Linked DNA regions of Homo sapiens: region 1 is linked to region 2. The links come from fine-mapping of genetic effects on gene expression. A gene starts in region 2. The other region holds a variant in brackets. All regions are shown on one strand. Distances are between the middles of the regions.

Region 1 (2,912 bases), 230 kb after region 2:
CCACCGCGCCCGGTCTGACCTTCTGTTTTTCTGTCTCTATATTCTATACCATTTTTTTTCTTTCTTTTTTTTTTTTTTTTTCCAAACAATAACCTTGTATTCTCTTCTCTACCCAGATGGCAACTTTGTCATGTTATTCTTGATGGGTAAATAACAGAAAAGGGACTAGAACTGAGACTAATTTTATGTATTAATGTGTAATAAGGCAAATATAGCGCCAGGTGTGGTGGTTCATGGCTATAATCCCAACACTTTGTGAGGCCAAGGCAGGAGGATTGCTTGAGCCCTGAAGTTTGAGACCAGCCTGGGCAACATAGTTGAGACCTCATCTCTCCCCTACCCCCACCACTCACCTGCAAAAAATATAGATGGGCTTAGTGGTACATGCCTCTAGTCCCAGCTACCTGGAAGTCTGAGGCAAGGGGATTGCTTGAGCCCAGGAGGTTGAGGCTGCAGTGAGCTGTGATTGTACCGCTGCACTCCAGCAACCTGGGCAACAGATTGAGACCCTGTCTCTTAAAAAAATAATAAGGCAAATATAGGCATGGACAAAGTGAGTGAAAGAAGATAGCACACATGGGTGGATTATTTCAGGTCTTCTGTGACCTTCTTCTTTCAGAAGGGTCTTGATGGTTTAAACTTGAGCCCCATCATAGCCCTCTTGCTGTCACTGTGGCCAATACTGGTTTTGCAAGTCCCTGGGTTGCCGACCTGTGTCACCTCTGCTTTGAATCCAGGGATGAAAGCCCTCCTCAGCATGGAAATGTTTCAGTGCTGCCACAGTCCCCGTGATAAGAGTGAGAGCAGGGGGCCTACTCTCAAGGGGAGGAGAGGTGAAAAGAGTGTGGATTTTTCATGTATATGGCTAAATTATTTCTTGGTTTGAAAATGTGAAATACAGTTTATCGAAATTCTAAACAACGCATTGATTTGTCTTTCTTTAGGGAACCTCAGGGCCTGATCCGACTACTGTGTATGTGGATCTGAAATCACTAAGACATGACAGGTACAACAGATTTATTAATGCTCCTTTCCTACTAGTTCCTAAGCATAACAAATTCGGAACCTCAAAGCCAGCATTTTCCCTCATTCCTTTTGTTCATATATTCCAGGAGGGGAATGGGAAGAGGGAAGGAATTTGTTTTTATCATTAATACATAAGATTTACATTTATAAGAAAGCTTTAATTCTCTCAGTTGCTACACTGTTCTTTAATATTAAAGTATAATAGTTATTGCCCATATAAAAGTATTTTGTGACATTTGATATAAATTAAACTAAAATGGATAGTCTCTTTCCTCTAAGAGTTTAAAAATAATAGGACAGATAAGATAAATGAGTCAGAGTAGGGTTTTTGAAACAACACTTTATCTGAGCCCCATGGGTAAAAGCCTGCCTCCTTAGCCCAGAAGGGAATTTTAGCTGTGTCCGGCAGTGAGC[G/A]CTGGCCCAGGGCTCTAAGACTTCTCTTCCCAAGCCCCACTACCCTGGATGTGTTATCTGGAGTGCCCCACTGCACTGACCTAGCCTGCATAGGTGGAACATCTCTCTCATGCAGCAGTTTGAAACCTGGGAAGATTTTGCCACCCTAGAGGAGATTTGACAATGTCTGGAAACATTTTGGGTTGTCATAAAAGGGGGCTTGCTACTGACATCTAGTGGGCAGAGGCCAGAGGTGTTGGTAAACACCGCAATGCACAGGATAGCCCCTTTCAACAAAAAATTATCTGGCCAAAATGTTAGTAGTGCTGAGTTTGAGAAACCCCTCTGTAGTATGAGGAAGAGAGACAAGTTAGAGGTTGTGGGAAGGCAGCACCGAGCTGCAGGAACATGGCGACTTCTCCTCTTAAAAGCCCTATATATAGTAAATACCGTTCTTCTGCAGGGTTCGTCTCGTGGAACGTGGCGCCCCTCAGAGTTTGCTTCTCTCAGAGTCTGGAAAGGTAATTTGTTCTGTTGACCATGGGGAAGGTGGGCTGTGTGGAGAAGTGGTTCAGTTTAAAGAAACCAGAAGCCATATAATATATTAGTGTCCAGGGCAAGCCTTAATTGAAATCTGGAGATAATTTCAGCTTGGCTAATACTTTCAAATTCATATGGGTACATAGATAAGAAGAATAGTAAATTTGAACTCTCTTAATTTCCATCGATTTTTAAAAATCCAACTGACATGTTATTCTTATTGACAGACCAGCAAAATGCAGTGCTCATTGTATGAAAGGTGGATAGAAGAGCTGGTTCTATGTTTTTTTTTCATGGTTTTTTTTGTTTTTTTGTTTTTTGTTTTTTGTTTTTTTTGAGATGGAGTCTCACTCTGCCACCCAGGCTAGAGTGCAGTGGCGCGATCTCGGCTCACTGCAACCTCTGCCTCCCAGATTCAAGGAGAACTTGCCTCAGCCTCCGAGTAGCCGGGGTTACAGGCACCTGCCCCCACGCCCAGCTAATTTTTGTGTTTTTAGTAAAGATGGGGTTTCACCATGTTGGCCAGGCTGGTCTTGAACTCCTGACATCAGGTGATCACCTGCCTCGGCCTCCCAAAGTGCTGGGATTACAGGCATGAGCCACTATGCCCGGCCCGGTTCTATCTTACAAACGTCACAAGGAGAAAGCTAGGAGAGGCCGAGATGGGAGTGTGGTTTAAGGTCAGGGAAGACACACATGCATTTAAAGTTGAAAGGAAAATAAAAATGGGGATGAGATTAAAGATATTTGAGAGTTAACATCTGTGGGAGTAAGATTTCTTAGATTAGAATGAGGCTATAAAACGTCAAAAGAGAGATTTAGTGAGAAGCAATTTACTAAGGATGATAGGAAACCCACATGCATTGTCAAGACAAGTGGGAATTTCTCTGCCCTTTGATGAGATAATGATGATACCTCAGAATCCTGTCTAGTAATTCTGAAGGGCAGTGAAA
Region 2 (2,912 bases):
TGCCACCATGCCCAGCTAATTTTTGTATTTTTAGTAGACGCGGGGTTTCACCATACTGGTCAGGCTGATCTCCAACTCCTGACCTCAGGTGATCTGCCTGCCTCGGCCTCCCAAAGTGCTGGGATTACAGATGTGAGCGACCACGCCCGGCCTTGACTTTTTTTTTTTTTTTTGAAACAGTTTCACTGCGTTGCCCAGGCTGGAGCGCAGCCGCCATGTTCTCAGCTCACTGTAACCTTGGCCTCCCGGGTTCAAGCGACGTTCCTACCTCAGCTCCCCCAGGTAGCTGGGATTACAGGCATGTGCCACTACTCCCGGCTAATTTTTGTGTTTTTAGTAGAGACGGGGTTTCGCCATGTTGGCCAGGCTGGTCTCGAACTCTTGACCTCAGGTGATCCGCCCACCTTGGCCTCCCAAAGTGCTGGGATCATAGGTGTGAGCCACTGCACCTAGCCTTGGACCCTCTTCATATTAAATTAAAATTAATGTTTTTGGAACACCTATTAGGCCACAGAGTGAGGAGGATGAGTTAAAGTAAGTTCCCTCCTTGTAAGTAGTTAGAAGTATAGAAAGAAAGAAGTGGACCTGCTCTCTATTGTCTTTTTCTTTTCTTTAGACGGAGTGTTTGCTCTCTTGCCCGGGCTGGAGTGCAATGACGCGATCTCAGCTTACTGTAACCTCTGCCTCCTGGGTTCAAGTGATTCTCCTGCCTCAGCCTCTTGAGTAGCTAGGAGTACAGGCATCCGCCACCACGCCCGGCTAATTTTTGTATTTTTATTGGAGACGGGGTTTCACCATGTTGGCCAGGCTGGCCTAGTACTCTTTTTTTTTTTTTTTTGAGTCGGAGTCTCGCGCTCACGCTCAGGCTGGAGTGCAGTGGCGTGATCTTGGCTCACTGCAAGCTCCGCCTCCCGGGTTCACGCCATTCTCCTGCCTCAGCCTCCCGAGTAGCTGGGACTACAGGCGCCCGCCACCACGCCCGGCTAATTTTTTGTACTTTTAGTAGAGACGGGGTTTCACCGTGTCAGCCAGGATGGTCTCGATCTCCTGACTTCGTGATCCACCCGTCTCGGCCTCCCAAAGTGCTGGGATTACAGGCGTGAGCCACCGCGCCCGGTCGGCTAGCCTGGTACTCTTAACCTCAGGTGATCCACCAGCCTCAGCCTCCCAAAGTGCTAGGATTACAGGCGAGAGCCACCGCGCCTGTCTTTTTAAAAGCTAAAACTGAAACGGAAACAGAGCTCCTGGCAGATAGGACCAGGAGCCACAGCGAAGGAGGTGGCCTGTGATTAGGTTTTTATAAATGGGCAGGTATTAATCAGGGAAAATGGAGTAAAGGACACGATAGACATACATTGCTAAGTCTAGTATTGGAAAAAGTAAGGCCTGGGACCCCTAAAAACTTGCTCGAGAGTGAAAGGTAAATGCTATGTGTCCACACTACTGTGGTAAAGCCGACAGTCCATACCATGAGCCCATTTCGCGCAGGGAAATTCGAGTGGTGGGCTTGGGCCCGTCGTTCTGGTAGCTTCCCAGTAGAGGGCGCCGTAAGCATATGCGTCTTCAGCCTGACTGGGCTGGAGAGGCGGTGCGTCCTCCTGGCCGGGGGGCGGGGGCCGTCGCGCTCACGTGACCTTTGCTCATGGCGGCGGCGGCGGCGGCGGCGGTGCTGGTGGTGCTCGGCGGCCGGAGCCGGATCCTGTAGCCGGGTGTGGGCCCGTGTCTGTCCGTCCCTCCTTCGGCCCCCTCTCTTGTCTTCCGGAGTGTGGCTGGCGGAGCTGGGATGGCGGAACGAGGCCTGGAGCCGTCGCCGGCCGCGGTGGCGGCGCTGCCGCCTGAAGTGCGGGCGCAGCTGGCGGAGCTGGAGCTGGAGCTCTCGGAGGGTAGGAGCCGGGCCGGGGAGAGGGCGCCCGGGGCCCTGCGGATCGCGGCGACTTGGGAGACAGGTCCCCGCCGCGCGCTCTGGCGGCCGTGCGGCGAGGGGGACGAGGGTGTAGAGAACCTGGCCTGGCGCTCCACGACCGTTTTCCCTCCTCTCCCACCCCATTAAGTGGTTTCCTGTGGCTTTCATTGTTTTCCCATGGAGGGGACTAAGTAAGGGCTTGTGGAAAGGTCCTCCCGGGCCCACACTGCTTCTGCGCTTCCTGCCCCCCAAAACCCGAGACAAAGCTGCGCCCTCCCGCTTCTGCCCAGGCGTCTGGCCCAGGTGGGGTGAGGGGTAGGGCTGCGAGGAGGGTGGCTGACAGCTTTCTCCTTTCCTCTCCCCTTTTCGTGGAGGGCTCCACGCCTTGTTCCAGCCCCCCCTTCCCCCTTTCAAAAAGAGACACATGGGAAATCCGCAGCATCATTTCTTCTCTTTCCTTTAACAATGCGCGATGCCTCCCCAGTGACAGGAGTGAGACACAAGCGGGTGAGCCATTTAGGGTCCTAGGAAGATAAGAAGCAATGGCATTAACCCAGAGAGACACACGGTGCTGCTTTTAGACCACCTTTGTCATAAGAAGTTTTTTTTTTTCCTGGTGCCTGTTATTCGGGCCGAATTTTCCGCATCTGGTCACCTTTTGGAGTCTTTGATGAAGGAAGGAGAGGAGGCTACCGTTTACTTGCAAATCCTGGCTGGCATTCTTTCTTTTGACAATGGATTGGGACAGGGAGGGTTCGATTTATTTTCAGAATTAAAAAAAAAAAATGGGATAAATCAAGCCACTGTTATTAGAGAACTCCTTGTACAACAATGAGAGAAACACAGTGCTCCGTTGTGGGCATGTGATCAGGCTTCTGGGGCAGTTGTGATCAGTTCTGTGTAAAGTTCCTGTTTTTATCACTGGCTGCCCCTGAGACAAAAGCAGCATTTTCTCCAAGCTTGATACCAGTACTTTGATTGTGTCTCCAGAGTTGCATATTCTTACTGA

What was found.
Region 1: its variant is fine-mapped to the expression of DIP2B in testis (GTEx, PIP above 0.99).

What each region holds. Positions count from the first base shown.
Region 1 is chr12:50,733,191-50,736,102 of GRCh38, forward strand. DIP2B (disco interacting protein 2 homolog B) reads left to right here. Exons shown (of 38, transcript NM_173602.3): 33 at 945-1,006; 34 at 1,883-1,940. Among named protein-coding and RNA genes, the nearest start is that of ATF1, 29 kb to the right of the region's middle. The variant G/A (reference allele first, on the strand shown) is at 1,441.
Region 2 is chr12:50,503,358-50,506,269 of GRCh38, forward strand. DIP2B (disco interacting protein 2 homolog B) reads left to right here and starts at 1,628. Exons shown (of 38, transcript NM_173602.3): 1 at 1,628-1,883. The coding sequence starts at 1,784. RefSeq lists a silencer at 1,931-2,040.